Regions from separate parts of the Homo sapiens genome. Here region 1 is linked to region 2. A link means that fine-mapping ties the variant in region 2 to the expression of a gene that starts in the linked region. Tissue or cell type: tibial nerve. Region 2 holds a variant in brackets; the other region holds the start of a gene. All regions are shown on one strand. Distances are between the middles of the regions.

Region 1 (8,109 bases), 510 kb before region 2:
CCTTGTACCTTTTGTTTATTTTATTCCAGGAAAAAAGTTTTAGTTATAAAGCCTCCTTCTTGGTTTTAATCTTTCATGCACTTCCAGTGACACTGCTGAGGAAATGACAATTTCCAACAAAAATAAACAGTAAATAGCTACTCCCTTTCAGTAAGGGATTATCCAAATTCAGAGAAAGGGATGAATATCCTGAATATGTGAAGAACACTTATAGTTCTACATAGAAACAAAAAACCCACTAAAAAAAGAACCCACTATAAACAGGCCATTCGCACACACAATAAGTATATGAAAGGTGTTTCAGCTCACATCTGCTCATTAGAGCAGAGAAACGCAGATTTTAAAAATACCTCTATTTTACTTGGCTAACATCTGTTAAGTGGATAACCTGAGTCAGGTACTTTTGTCTTATTTAATGCAAACAAAATTCCTGTGAGGTGGGCACTATCATAATGTCCATTTTATAGACAGGGAATCCGAGGCTCAGAGGTTAAAATGCCTGAGGACACAGCTAATAAGTGGTGTTCAGAAAAGTGCTATTTTATCTTTTGCGATTTGCAGATTAAATGATACAGATCAAAATGATAAATGAGCATGCTTTGACCCAGCAATTTCACCTACAAAAGTTTTTATTCATGCTTTGACACAGCAGTTTCACCTACAAAAGTTTATTCCGGGGAAATAAATTGGGTAAGTACATAAAGGGCTTTTATAAGGACATTTAGTGTTGTATTGTTTACAATGGCAAAAAATTGGAAACAATCTAAACGTTCTTCAAAAGGGGATTGGCGAAATAGACATATCAATACAATGTTAACCAGAGCAGCTCTTAAAAATAATGACATAGATCAATATGATTTGGCTTGGAAACTTGTGGCTTGCCTATAGCACAGTATATTGTTCAGAGCGGGAGGCAAGTTATAAAATAGCATGTAAGTTATAATCCCATTTTTGTAAAAGGAATTATCTTTAAGCAGGGGAAAATCTCTGAATGTATATGCTGTGGTTATCCTTGCAGAGGGGCTAGATTATAACAGAGCCAATCAGTTTATATTTCTGTATTATTTGAATATTCTTTTTTGGAATAACTATTTGAAGCAGAAAAAAGGCAATAAATATTGTCGCATGCTGGAATGCACAAAGCAGAACAAATGCACTACGACTGCAAGAACACTCCCAGGGCAACTGAAAGAAGATCAGAGAAGGCACGTACAGGAGAAAGATGTGATAGAAGACTCAACACACAGAGTAGGGTTATGCAGAAGAAAGACAGTGAGAAGCAGAGGAAAGGGAGATGGGAGGGAGAAAGAGTAAAAAGAGCAAAGCAGATGAGCAGGAAAGCAGATGAGCAGGAAAGCAGAGCAAAGGCAGACTGTTGAATCTGTAGAGGAGTTGTAATAAAGGTCAGCAGAGCCCTGGTGGCATCAGGGAATGTGCAACTGGGGCCTTGGTAAGGACAGTTAAGATAGTTAACTGTAGGCAGATAGATGATAGATAGATAGATAGATAGATAGATAGATAGATAGATAGATAGATAACTAAGGACAGTTAAGCTAGATAAGAGCATGGGTGCTAGGGTAAAGCAGTACAGTTAGTGCTCACTAAATAGATATGTCTTCCCCTATGTGTCCTATCCTCCCTTGTAAGTAGATAGGGGTCACAATACTCATTCTTGTCATTGAACTGTGACAGGAAGGGCTGAGGCCCTTAAAGTTTGCAATGCCTCTTTCATTACCCCATGCAGAAGCCATGGGTGTCATATGTTTCATGATGGCCTGACTAGAAGGAGTCACCAATTCCCAGGGGCCAAGATGTGATCATGAAATAAACTCTTTTTGTGTTAAGATACTGTGATTTGGGAGTTTGCCTGTTATGAGAGCTAGAATTTCTTGCTCTGATATGCGTTGTCAGGTACTAGCTGTCTGACTTTGGATAGATTACTTAACTCTCTGAACATCTGTTATTTCACCTGTCAATGGAAATAATAATAGCACCTATCTCACGTGGTTATTGGAGGATTACATGAGAAAGTGTACAGTGTTAGGCACAAAATATTCAATATGTGTTATCATTGTTATTATTATCGTTTACAGCAGGAGTTGATAAATAAATTCCCCAAAATGGGCAGCAACAAGGACAGGGAGTTGTGAAGAGATGACAGCAGGGCTGATCCAAGGAGATATTGTGGAACATATTAACAAAAGTTGTGGAATCTGGACTTGTAACTAAAGAGGACTGAAGATATAGACCCAAATATCTCTGGCTAGTGAATTGCCAACTTCCTATGAGGAAGCATGAAGCTGTCATTTGTGGAGGTTAACTTATAGAGATAAGCTAGTTATGATTAGGTGCATCTCCATAAACATGCTTACTAAATTTTCATCATAATGAAATATGTTAGGTTTATATAATCTCTTTTTCCAACATTTCAGTTGAAGTGAACATAGGTGTTAGATATGCCTAATATTACAGAAATATTGGTTGACCCTTTGCTCTTCCAAGTGATCTTAGGGCAAGGACTCAGGCTGCCTTCTCCCTTGACTACTTAGGGCAGAGGGAGGACTATGTGAGTGGGCCAGCATGTGCCCCTGTGGTGGACTGGTGGTCAAGGGGGGATGTTATATATAAATCCAATAAATACAGCATATGATTAATTCAGGGTAACTTGGTAGTGCTATTCTCCCTTTATTTATTGCTTTTCCTTTTTGAAAAGTAGCATATTTGCAATTAGCAAGTATAACAGATATCTTATTGAGACCTGTGCCATAATTGTATGATTTTTGGAGTGCAGTGATTATTTATAGGCGTAATCAGGGTGGACCATGGCCTCCAACTTCCAAGCTCAAGTGATCCTCCCGCCTCAGCCTCTGGAGTAGCTGAGACTACAGGTGCACCCCACTGCACCCAGCTTGATTTTTAAAATAAAATCAAATTGTTGATTTTTGAGAGAACAAACGGTTTAAGTTACTCCCATTCAGTAGCAGCTGCAAAATTAGGAGGGGGTTTAAGGGTGACCGTCTGGTTGTCAGAGTGTGTTGGAAGCTGAGTTTGAATTTGCACATCACTTTACATGGATTGAGAAGATGTCCTCCACCCCCCCGCCCCGCCCGACCTTTATTTTTGAGACAGAGTCTCGCTGTGTCACCCAGGCTGGAGTGCAGTGGTGAGATCTCTGCTCACTGCAACCTCTGCCTCCCGGGTTCAAGTGATTCTCGTGCCTCAGCCTTCAGAGTACCTGGGATTAAAGGCATGTGCCACCACACGTGGCTAATTTTTGTATTTTTAGTGGAAATGGGGTTTCACCATGTTGGCCAGGCTGGTCTCGAACTCCTGACGTCGTGATCTGCCTGCCTTGGCCTCCCAAAGTGCTGGGATTACAGGCGTGAGCCACCGCACAGGCCCTACTTTCTAAATAAAAAGGGAGGGGTCTTTTTTTGGGAGGAGGTTAAGGCCCGCAGCTCCCCTTGATATGGCCGCTGCTCTCAGGCACTTAATCCATTATTTCAACAAATGTTTAAAGAGCACCTACTATGTGCTTCAATTATACAAAGATGATACAACCTCTGTCCCTAGAATGACCACAGCCCAACAGAGAGACTGAGGGCGAAATGTGCAAACCCTGGGTCCTCCAAATACTTAAGATTCAGAGCCAGGTTGTCAGAGGTTCTCCTTTGTTCTGGCTGAATAGTAACACTGACAGGGACCTGCCAGTTTCAAGTTATTCCAGTTATTCGGAAAAGTGAATTGTTCCAAGTGGCGTCAGTGCACGTTAGAACGTGGGCCCGCGTCATGGTGTTCGTGAAGACTGGAAACAAGTGGGACCCCCGCCAGCACAGCTCATGCAACTGCTTCCCCTCCAACAGTTTCGCCCATCCCGACTCAATTGAGGGACCCGAGACGTTTCTTCTCTGGGCCAATCAGAACCCAGTCAGCATCTCTCTGATGCAACTGTTCCCTTATAAAACGATTAAACGTGGACCAGCTATTTTTATTCGGTCCTATAAAAATAGCTGCCGTCAGTCAGTCCTGGCGGGGAATCAAGGCCTCTGCTCTTCAAGTGCGCGCCCCAGTCGGCCGTGTCCTGATGTTACTTTCCCAGCCATTGGCATCTGGGGGCGCAGCTGGACCCACAGCTCCCAGACCGCGTTGTGTTCCACTGACAGAGTCTCCTAGGGAAAGGGAAAGGTGCATTTGCTCTCAGGCTCCGCCTAGGACACACACACCAAGATCTTCCCGGGCTGCTGGTAAAAGCCAGGATGCAACAGCCTGAGGGTCCCAGAGCGAGGAAGAAGGATCAATCAGGTCCCCCGGACGCACTTAGTTCAGCAGGAGTGGCGGGCTGTGGGGGTGGGAGGTAGCCCCAGGGCCTTTGATGTGGGCACACGCTCCCCCAGCCCGCCGAATCGGTTCCTCCCCTAACAAGGGATGTGGACACGGTTCATCTGCCTTCCGGTGTGCCTGAGCAAGAACTGTGCAACCTATCTCCACCCCCTCCGTCCCCGGTATGAGCACTTTTGATTCCTCCCCAGACAAAGCCAATCTGAACTCCAGCAGAATGAATAAAGGGATCAGGTTGCTCTCCCGGCCTCCCCTCACCTCCCTCCTCGCTTCTCCCTTTCCCCACGTGACTCTCTGGAATTTCGCCAAAGCTCCGAGTCTCTGGGTCCATTTTCACACCGAGCAAAGCAGAGAGGAAGGAGGCAAGGGAGACTAGAGGAAGGCTGAACGTGTGTCCTTTAAACACGGGGTCCAGACCCGGCGTATTTTGGGCGTTTCCAGGCTCTCTCGCCAGAGTGGCCTTGAGTTTGGGGGTCTTTTCCAGCCTCGCTAGCTTTTTCCTCCGTGCAATTAAAATTATGGCTCTTCTTCCACTCCCGTAATCATTGCACCTCTACCCTGCAGACCTCCTCCGGGGTGTTCAGCGCGGAGGTGGGTGTTGGTGTGCAGCAAGCCGCGTCCCCGCAGCCCTCCTCACCCAGGCGAGGGGCGGGGACGAGAAAGTAGCAGCAGCGCCCCCCAGTCTTTCCTCTGAAGCTTCCGAACAGTCTGCTTCAGGGAGCGCAGCCTGAGGCGGTGTGGTGCGGTGCGGCTGCAGGGCGGGCGAGTCCCCGGAGCTGCCCTCAGCGCTGCACAGTTTCCAGCGAGCGGACCCCGGCAGATGAGGTCTGCCGAGCCGGGTGGCTCGACCAAGGAGTGGGTGTGGGTGGGTCTTTCGGGGCTCCCGGCGACCCGCGGTGCCGACGCAACGCCGACGTATGGTGCCAAGCGAACTTTAAAAAGCTGCTTCGGACAAACCAGAGCCAGGATTTCCACTGTCGGGGACCCGGGATCGGAAGGGTCTAGCCCGAGGGAAATGCTGGAAGATCCCATCGGCCAGTGACCAGCAACTTTCCGGCGAGATTTTGACGCGGAGAACTGTGCTCTGCCTCCTCTTATTCTCCCAAAGCTCACGTTGGCGTCCTGCCTTGCGGGGGAACTCGGCGCGCTCTCTGCCTGAGCAGCGAGTGAATTGAACCCCAGCCCGCTCCGGCGCCTCCGGGCTGATGAGTGTCGCTCTCCGCCCGTCCATCTCTTTTTCCCGGAGGTAAAGGCCCGCGGTCCCCCACCTTCAGTGCGCCCGGGTTCCAAGCGCCGGAGCCAGCGTTTTGGCGGAGCCGCTTCTTGGATGCTGAAGGCTGGGCTCCTCCATCGTGGGTGCCGAGGCGGCGATGGGTGTCCTCAAAGTGTGGCTCGGGCTGGCCCTAGCGTTGGCGGAATTTGCAGTATTGCCTCATCATTCCGAAGGTGAGAGAGCGGTGCCGCGTGTGTGTGTGTGTGTGCGTGTGCGTGTGTGTGTGTATGTGTGAGTGATCGTGCAGTTTAAAAATCTCAGCAGGTTTTATGGTATTTCGGTGAGGTGGAAGTTTTTCTGGGAAGGGTGAGGTGGAAGTGAAACTGGAATAGGCTTTTTCTGATAAGATTCCTACTCCTGATTGTTTTGTATTCGGATTACACCCCCGAAACGGCCTCCCTCTCTGCCCTAAGTGCTTTTGGGTGGGTGGGTGGCCGATGGAGGTGACATCTCTGAAACTGATCCTTTTTCTTTCCACCACCTACCTTTCCCCGAAGGGAAAGCAACTGCATGGAGCACAGGTGAGGAGCGAACAATTGCTCTTACCTGTTTAAAAATACTTCTGTTCCTAAGAAACATACAGTCTTTCATCTTAAAGCCCCATCGCTCTCCCGCCCTCCTTACCTCAGTTAGTCTCCCCCTAAAGTCCAGTTAGGATTTTATAACTAACTGGTTGGAGCGTGTTCTGGTCGTGGGCAGTTCAGTTGCACTGAAAGAAATCTCTCCAGTACGGAGAAGCACGAACCAGCCTGCTTCCCAGAACAAAAGTGGTTAATAAGAGTTTAGGTTCATTCTTTTACTTCACCCTCCGCCTCCTGGTTTTCCTCCGAGGCTCCAAGCTACCTGTAAAACCCCGGAGCCGCAGGAGAGAAAAGGAAGCCGTGAGACTAGTTGTCGCCATGATATCAAATGCAATCCGGGCTCAGCCAAATAAATGAGTCAATAAGTAAATCAAGAGTTTGGGGTCATGGGATGCCGGGCCTGGGGACGCGAGGCGCTGTGAGCTCCCTCCTGCTCCGAGGAGCCAGGGAAGTCGCCCCGCCAGTGCTTAGGGAGGGGGAAGGGAGCCGGCGGGCTGGGAGGAAGACGGCTTAATCCACAGCGCCTGGCTCTCGGCTTCCCCTCCCGGCTCCATTCATTATTCATCCAGCTGCGGGAAGAAGAGTTCACCTGCCCAGCCGCAAACCAGAGCCGCGGCTGGGCGGCGGCGGCGGGCGCAGGGCGGGCCGCCTTCTCCGCCCTGGTGCCTAGGAAGGGGCGCGGGGCGGCTCCCGGGAGTCGAGCTCTGGCGCAGGACTGGGGGCTGCGGGAGGCCCGGGGAGGACAAAGCTCTGCCTCGGGTCGACCTCCAGTCACTGGAGCAGCTGCCTTTTCTTTGCTGGCTTCCCAAGAGAAAGGCCTTGGGAATCCACGCACAAGGGTGGGGGACTTTCCCGTGGGTCCAGGTGCTGCCTTCTGCACTCTTCCGGGATGTGTGTCAAGTGTGTATAATCTCCGCGAAAGGCACATCTGGGGCCTGTGCAGCCTTCTCCCAACAGTGCAAGTCCTGTAGAAATATAACTTTATTGTTTATGTGCGTGTGGGCGCGTACTTTGGAAAAAAAAAAAAAAAGCTTGTAGGGCTTGATTATAACAATAAACCAGATGAGAGAGTCACCCCAGGCCACCCAAACCTGAACTTGGTACTTAGAAAAATTAATTTCACTTGGTGGCAGTTTTTAAAATTTAGAGTCCTATCCCAGCAACGCAGGAAACGTGCTATCACTCCCGGATAGCTCACCAGGGGGCAGTTGGAATGGTGCAGCTTGTCGGAACCAAAACTCTGAAATCAACAAAAGGCATTATTATTAAGAGCCTGCAGGGTGCGCTCTTTGGCAGATTGCTTGATCCAGTGGGCCAAGTTTAAGAAGTGCGGAATCTAGACTGGGAGGTGGGGATGGGGGGATGTGAAGCACAGAAAGCTGGGGGTAGAGACGGGGGGCGGGGGCGGGGGCGGAGAGAGGGTGTGGATATTACTCCAAAGAGTCTTTGGAAACTTTGCTTCTTATTGTTTGACTTTACTGTCAGAGCATTCTATAGCTGTTTCACAAATTGGATTGATAAATTGATAGATGTCTGAGTTTCCACCCACGTCATAATGGTGCTTATCTAATAATGAATGAATGAATGAATGAACATGGCCATTTATTGAGCAGGTATTGTTTGCCTGGCTCTTTGCTAAGCACTTTACATACTTTATCTCATTTAATTAGTTTAATTAAGTGATATCACTCCCACAGACAAAAAAACATTTGTCATCTGATGAGACCTCTGGTTTGGTCCTCTCAAGGTTTTCTTTTTCTTTAAAAAATAAGAGCATTGAGATCAAGGTTGGAAACCTCAAGGATCTTAGAAATCTCCTCAAGTTTTTATTATCAGCCTAGAGAATAATTTTTAAAAATAGAAAAGAGACATTCACATGTATACTTCTTTTGATGGGATGTACCTTGTGACACCTTT
Region 2 (8,109 bases):
ATCTTTTATATGCCAGATATTGGCTCTGGCAACACAGCAGAGAAAGAGAAATAAAAAGGATGGCACCTACATTTTATTAGGGAAGACAGACAATAAATGAAGAAATAAATGTACAGTATAAAAAGACAGTTTTAAGTGCTCTGGGGAAAAGTAAAGGTGGATAATAAATATGATGGGGGGTGTGATTTTCTGCTCAGATATAGGAGGAGAAGTCAACGTGGCATGAGATGGTGAGCTGAGGGAATATCTCGGGAAAGAGCAGCCAGGCAGACGGAATGATAAGTGTAAGCCCTGAGGCAGATGGGCAAGACACATTTGAATGCAACAGGAAGATTCCCACGAAGCAAAAACAGGGATACAAGATTACAAGGGGATTGGGGGAGGTATTACAATTCTCTTTTATGGTACTTTATTATCCTCCAAGGGCCACAGAGAGTCCCAAGAAGTCTTCACATGGACTGTTCAAGGAGTTTCCATTCTCTAGGTTTACTTTACATTAGGAAGCATTCTTAAATTTGCTGCAACTTCTTGTTGGGATTATCGCTTTTTAAAAAAACTCATAAATAACCCATAAAATAATGCATTTACCATCATGTCCAGTAGACATCATTTACCTTGGCCATTTATGTAAGAAGTATTCTGCCCAGAATATTACAAACAGGAGACATCCCTGATCCCAGTCCCTCACAGGTTTCTCATCCTCATAGGAGTGAGGTGGATAGAGTAAGTGTCCCCAAATCCTGCAAAGCCAGTGCTGTGGTCTAAATGTCTGTGTCGTTCCCCCTCCCCCACCAACCTGCCCCTTATTCATAGGTTGAAATCCTGACCTTCAGGATGATTGGGCGATGGGATCTCTGGGGGGTGATTAGGTTAGGTGGGGATTATTGCCCTTTTAAAAGAGGTCTGAGGGAGCTTGGTCACGTCTTCTGCCATGTGAGAACACAGCCAGAAGGTGCCGTATATGAACCATAAAGTGGACCTTCACTAGACACTGAATCTGCTGGCACCTTGATCTTGGAATTTTAGCCTCCAGAATTGTGAGAAATAAATTTTTATTATTTATAAGACACCCAGTTTGTGGTATTTTGTTATATCAGCCTGGAATGCTAAGACAGACAGCCACCGTTCTCTAGCCAAGGGCCATTTAAGAAGATGTGGATTCTGCACTTCAGTGAGCCAAATTCCCTATATTTCTCCATATATCCAGGAAGATATAAATTCTCTATATATTCCTGTTAGATTGCAGGACCCTTAGACAGGGACGTCTCCCGCAGAAGTTACACATGCACAGGGCTGAGTATGTGGCCAGAATAGCCATGTTAGTCTTCAAATCTTTGTGACCCTTGGCCAAGAGAATTTGGTCAAGAACTCTTAACTAGGTTAAGCACTTTACTTTGATTGTAGAACAAAGAGATAATCTACAAATACTGGTGCTAGATGACTCAAAAGAAGATTAATACAAATTATTTATAATCTGCTTTAAACAAATACATGAAAATTATTCTGAGAAAGATGTTCATGTTAATAAAGTCTCTGGGGAGGCCAAGTGTTTCAAACTCAATCCAGATAGTTGGGTTTGCTACCTTTGTCAGAGAAACCCTGAGCGCTTGGAGAGACAGGAAGGAAGATGTAACAGAATCACCAGACACAGTCATGCATTTCATGTCTCCAGTGTACTAGAAAACACTCAGCTTCTGAAGTATCTCCCAAATCTCCCAGAATACAATAGGAACTTTGATTTCTAGACTATTGATACTTGAAGGAAGCAACTCATCGGGCAGCCAACCATCTAGTGTAGAGCTTGGAGAAAGTCCACACTGTGAGATGTCATTGTCTTGCTTTCATATTCTTACTTAGCAAACTAATTCACAGTTATGTATTAAGCCCCTATCTGGGGACTGAGCACTGGGCTCCCAGCTGGATAAATAGGAATGAGTGAAACAAATGTCTCTGCCTTCTGGAATTTTATTTTAGAGGGGGTGGAGAGACAGATATAAACAGCGAGAGGTATTACTCAATGCTGAGTGCCCTAACAATGGAGAGGTGGCTGAGATGCAGAATAACAGTAGAAGACCTACTCAGATCAAGTGCCAAAGAAGATCTGTTAGAGAAGATGGTCTTTAAGGAGAGGACTGAAGGTAAAAATCATTCCAGTTAGAGAGAACAACACAAACCAAGGCATTAAGGTGGGAAAGAGTTCATTGTATACCAGCTTGACTTTCAAAGAACTGAAGTGTGGGAACTCTACCTCTCATCTGGAGAGAGTGGCTCCAGATAAGAGTCATGAAGGTGGTTGGGCCAAACCATGCAGGGCCCTATGGACCAGTGTAAGGAGTTTGGACTCTATTCAGTGTGAAATAGGGGAGTGACAAGATCTGACTTAGATTTTTTTTTTTTTTTTTTTTGAGATGGAGTCTCGCTCTGTTGCACAGACCAGAGTGCAGTAGCACGATCTCAGCTCACTACAACCTCTGCCTCCTGGGTTCAAGTGATTCTCCTGCCCCAGCCTCCTGAGTAGCTGGGATTACAGGCACCTGCCACCACGCCTGGTTAAATTTTGTATTTTTAGTAGAGGCAGAGTTTCATCATATTGGCCAGGCTGGTCTCGAACTCCTGACCTCAGGTGATCCATCCCAAAGCACAGAGATTACAGGTGTGAGTCACCCCACCTGGCCCGACTTAGATCTTTAACAGATCCCTTGGCTGCTATGTGGGAAATGGCTGGAGATGGGAAGTAGGAAGTAGAGAGGAACATGACTCAGATGTTCAAGTACGGGAGAGCGATGATTGTGAGTTGGACAAGAGCAGGAGCAAAGAACCTGGGGAGGAGCGCCCATGCGATTATCTTCTTAAAATAATCTCAGCAGGCCTTGCTGATAGATGGAATTCAGAGGGAAATGCAGGTGAAGGAATCAAAGGGGACTCCCAGGTTTCTGGTGGCTGATGATTGCTCCTTTTACAGGGATGGGGAAGGTTGAGGAAACTGAGCAAATTGGCGATGAGCACAGAAACTGGAGCCAGATTGCCTAGGTTCAAATCCTGGCTGTGCCACAAACTACCTATGTGACCTTGGCGAGTGTCTTAACCGCTCTGGACCCTCTTTTTTCTCCTCTATAAAATCACGGTATTAATTGTACCTACCTCATAGGGTGGTTTTGAGGATTAAATGATCAGGTATATGTAAAATACAAGTAAGTACTATGTAAGTGTCAGAAGGGGGAAGAAATAGCTTGGGAGGAAACAATGAGTTGATATAGGAGATAATCAAAACAAATACATGGAGGAGACATTGAATATACAAGACCAGTGCTCAGAACTGAAGTCTGGGCTAGAGCTATAATGTGGGATTTTTCTGTATACAGAAGAGGGAGTGGAAGAAATAACCCACAGCAGGATTAGAGGGAAAGAAAAGAGAGAGCCACTTTCCACTTTAGAATTGCGTATT[T/G]TATAGAGGTCAGACAAAGGTGAGTGCATCCTGGAGAGGCGGGAAGAAACCTAGGAGGTGAGGCACAGGAGCCAATGGAAGGCAGGCTAGCTGTGAGTGACACATGCTCCAAGGGGTCAAGGCTTCTTATTATAACTCATGTGTCATGGAAAATACAACATCAATGGCTTGTTTGTCCCTGTCTTCCCTGATTTCTGAATCTCATTCATCTTTCTACTCCATCCCACACCCTCCTCTGTTCTCACATTCCAGTCCTCTTGCTCTGACACTGCCCTGATGATGAAATCACTCTATTTAAAAAAGAAAAGCTGAACTATTCACAGTAGCAAAAATATGGAATAAAACTAAGGTTTATCAACAGAGGATTGAATTAAGAAAATGAATGTAGAATACTATACTATACTATACTATAGAATACTACTCAGCCACTCAGCCACAAAAAAAAAAAAAATGAAATCATGTCTTTTGCAGGAACATGAATGGAACTGGAGGCCATTATCCTGAGTGAAATAACTCAGAAGCAGAAAGTCAAATACCACTTATAAGTGGGAGCTAAACAATGGGTACACATTGATATAGAGAACGGAATAATAGAGATTGAACACTTCAAAAGGTGGGAGGGTGGGAGGGGCTAAGGGCTGAAAATTACCTATTGAGCACAGGGCTCACTAGTCGGGTGACGGGTACACTAATAAAAGCCAAGACTTCACCACCATGCACCATCTGCATGTAAGAAATCTGCACTTGTACCCCCTAAATATTTTTAAGAAATTTAAAAAAGAAAAGCTGAAAAGTATGAATATTTTTTCTTTGAGTGAGCCCAAGAACAAATATAAACTTTTTCTTCAGAACTTTGGACACATTATGAACAAAGCCATGTTGTCAGCCTGGCATATCTCAGGGATCCCAGCGTCTGCCAGTCTTGCCTGCTGTGGACGTTCAGCACCGCCTACTCCTTACTGCCCTGTGGGCTGCAGAGCATGCCTGCGGTGGTGGTGGGAGGCTTCTGTTTGTGCATCATCTTCCATAGGCACAGTGATCATTGCCAGCCAGTGGCACTTCTAGGTGAGGAGGCTCTTAGGCGAGGCCCCCAGGATTTGCCCTGTAGGAACCGCTTGGTTACCAGTATTTTTCTCTGGCCTTTACCTGCTGTATTAGTTTCCTAGGGCTGCTGTAATAAAGTACCACAAGCTGCTGGTTTCGAATGACATGAATATATTATCTCACAGTTCTGGAGGCCAGAAGTCTAAAATCAAGGTGTGGTCAGGGCCGTCCTCCCTCTGAAAGCTGTAGGGGAGAACTTCTTAGCCTCTTCCTGGTTTCTAGTGGTTTACTGGTATAGGGGAGTAACAGTAATCCCCATAGGTTCTTAGTTGGAAAGCACCTTTGTTACAAAAGACAGATTGACAAGAGAAAACCAGACAGAAGTTTATTAACATGTGTATTTTGAGTATACATGGAGACACCAAGAGAATGAGTAGTTTTCAGAGGTGGCTTTGAATTTCAGCTTATATAGCATCTTCAACAAAGAACAGTAAATTTTTTGTAACAAGACAATAGAAAAGGACCTTTGAATCTCTGTGGGCAGCAACTTGCAGGTGGGGCAGTGAAGAAAGGCAAATAACTTGCAGATAAAGGTTAGTTAGTACAGCTTGCTAATATAAATTCTTCTAATACCATTGTCAGGCTGATAAGGGTCTTAAACTATCTTCAGTCTTTAACCTTTGTTCTCCCTGGTAGTCAGGAGGGCAGAATACCTTTTGTCTTCATAAATCTTTGTCCTGCTTTTAGGCAAATGGAGGAAAGATATCTCTTGAGTATCTGTTTCTTCTTGTCTTCAACAATCCTTCATGTTTTGAAGAGGCACATTCTGGTCTCATACTGGCAGCTCGCAGCTGCGTAACTCCAGTCTCTGCCTTCACCATCACATCACATTCTTTCTGTATGTCTCTGCCTTTACATGGCTGTCTTATAAGGATACCAGTGGTATTGGATTGGGGGCCTGCCACTGTGACCTCATCTTAATTAATTACATCTGCAATAACCTGGTCTCCAAGTAAGGCCACATTCTGTGGTACTGTGGGTTAGGACTTTAAGGTATTTTTTTGGGGAGACACAATTCAACCCATAACACCTGCCTCACTTGACTGCATTTTATTTCAGGGCTGTTTACAGTAAACTTTCTTTGGTTTTGAAAAATGCTTTTTACTGGAAAAATTGAACAGGAAGTCTTAACAATTTCCAAGTTTGATTGCTTTATTTTTTATAATCTACTCCATTTTTCCTTGTATCATAAAGCTTCATGACCCAACATAGCATCTTGACATTGAACAGAGAGCCATCGTTTCTCCCCGGCTCTTTGAGAGCTCCTTGTCCTGGAGTTTTATCTGGAGCTTTGATTTGATGCCTCAATTTTTGGATGTGGCCTTTATAGGGCTTTCTGAAGTGATGAGTGATCTGGCTTCACCGCATCTTCAAAATGTCCCTGCAGCAACTGCTATTCTTGCTCTGTAGCATTTGGCTTTAAATATGTTTCATATCAACAGGGTTGGCACCTTCTGTTTTTCTCTTCCACTCATCCTTCTGAATGTAAATGTTTAACTTCTTGCAAACACAGTACACTTTGCATAAAGAAATAGGTACAACTGGCTTTTGTGAGTCAAAAACAGACTGGCCTCTCCCAGGGGCAATAGCAAACAGCTCCCTAGGCCCAGCTTGGCCAAGCAGTGGCTTCAAGGTGTCATGTGCTAAGGCTGACCTCCGAAGGATGATTTTAGAAGATCAAGGGAGATTATATTGTCTTGAAAAAGATGGTTTAAATGAGATGAAGGCTAGTCTAGTTTAGGAGCAAAGACTGTTGGAACAGACCACTTACTGGCTGTGGGAACTTAGACAAGTTACTTAATCATCAGTTTCATCATCTGTGAAAAGGATTTATTATATCTACCTTATAAGTTTATTGCAAGGATTGAATAAGCAAATGCAGGAAACGCGCTTAGCACAGTACTTGGCACATAGTGATTAGCAGCAATTGTTCTTAGTATAAAGAGCTCCTGTTACTTTCCCCCTTTATCTAGACATTCTTTGCTTTAATTTGTTTTCCAACTGGCTTCAGCAGCATTTTTCTTTTGGAGGCATCTGAAGGTCAAGTTTCAGAAAAGGAAAGCAACTAAATGTGTTTAAATGTGTGGATGGAAATCTGATCAAAGGCAATTTTTTTTTTTTTAAATAGACTTTGCCAAGTATTCAGGTGATGTTCTACGCTAGCACTGACTATGTTAGGACACTAGGGTTACTGGAAATAAACTCAGCCAAGTATTGATTAGTAATATAAATGTCAAGGAATTAAGCTTGCAGTGGAGCAGGCAATGCAAGCAGTCCTGTTTGGCTGTAAAAATGCCGACATTCCTGAAGCGATGAGCTCATCATTAAATTCTTCATCTTCCACACCCATAAGAGAATTCATGGCTTGTTTGCTCATTTTTGCTTTGGTTTTCTAGACAGCTAAGAAGGAAATAAAGCAGTGCTTCTTAAACTTTATTGTGTACTAGAATCACCTGGAAGGTTTGTTAAATCGCAGATTCTGCATCCTGGCCCTGCAGTTGTTGGTTCAGGAACACTGGGGTTGGGCCTGAGAATTTGCATTTCTGTCACATTCCCGGGTGATGCTGATGCAGCTGCTTCAGGAACCACACTTTGAGAACCACTAAGATGAACTCCCTCGAGGCATTGTGATGTGACATAGAGCAGGGGGCATTTTAGTCATAAGGTGATGGGTTTGAGTCCTGGGGCTGTCCTTATTAGCAGAGCTCTTTTAAGCAAATAATCTCTGTGAGACTGGGTTTCTTCCATTTTCAATTAGAAATAATAAAATTCACCTCATGAAGGCTCTTGTAAGAGTTAAATGTTTGTAAATCACTTTGTTCATGTATTAGTTTTAAAAGATTTCATTAATCTTTGATTGTAAGATTATTTTGTAAGTCATGTAATATTTCCGAATGATTTGGGCAACCAAGTCTATCAAATGAATAATGCCATTCGTTTAAATAATGGAAGCAGTTTTAAATATTTCACTAAAATTCCACTTCAGAATTCCCAAGCCCTTTTTCAAGTTGGGGTGTGTGTGTGCGTACTTTCTTCCCCCCTTGTAATTAAACAAGTTATTCCTCCCCCATTTAATTCTTGCTAAGTACTAAATTGCATAATAAATTGGGAATTTCCTCCTTCTCTAATTCTGTGCATTGGCATTTTAGCATATTTTGATGTGTAGGTGGTAAAGGCCAGTGAAAAGTTCACAGCTGGAGTGCAAACCCTGAGTTTTCATGATGCATGAACAACTGGGATCTGACCACAATTTTGTCTTTTTATATTTAGAATCAGCCACGTCAATATCTGCATGGCACAGAATCACCTGGGAGCTTCTTACACATGTAGAATTTAGCACCCCATCTCTAAAACATATGATTCAGTATATAGAAGGTGTGTCCTGGTCATATACATTTAAAGTATCACTCCAGGTGGTACAGAGACTGCACTTCATGAAACACCAGGAATGGTCTGGAATAGTCTAGTTTGCTTTTAAATTCAGCCTCTGCCTGCAACTAGCTGTGTAGACTTGATCAAATTCTCTGGTCTTCTTAAATCTTGGTGCTGTTTATGTGAAA

Evidence for each region. PIP is the estimated chance that this variant, and not a neighbour inherited with it, causes the effect.
Region 1: FRAS1 starts here. The variant in region 2 is fine-mapped to the expression of FRAS1 in tibial nerve (GTEx, PIP above 0.99).

Annotation. Positions count from the first base shown.
Region 1 is chr4:78,052,302-78,060,410 of GRCh38, forward strand. It overlaps FRAS1 (Fraser extracellular matrix complex subunit 1), which reads left to right and starts at 5,022. Exons shown (of 74, transcript NM_025074.7): 1 at 5,022-5,784. The coding sequence starts at 5,709. RefSeq lists an enhancer at 3,608-4,579.
Region 2 is chr4:78,562,607-78,570,715 of GRCh38, forward strand. The region is part of intron 2 of ANXA3 (annexin A3); the gene reads left to right. Among named protein-coding and RNA genes, the nearest start is that of ANXA3, 15 kb to the left of the region's middle. The variant T/G (reference allele first, on the strand shown) is at 3,446.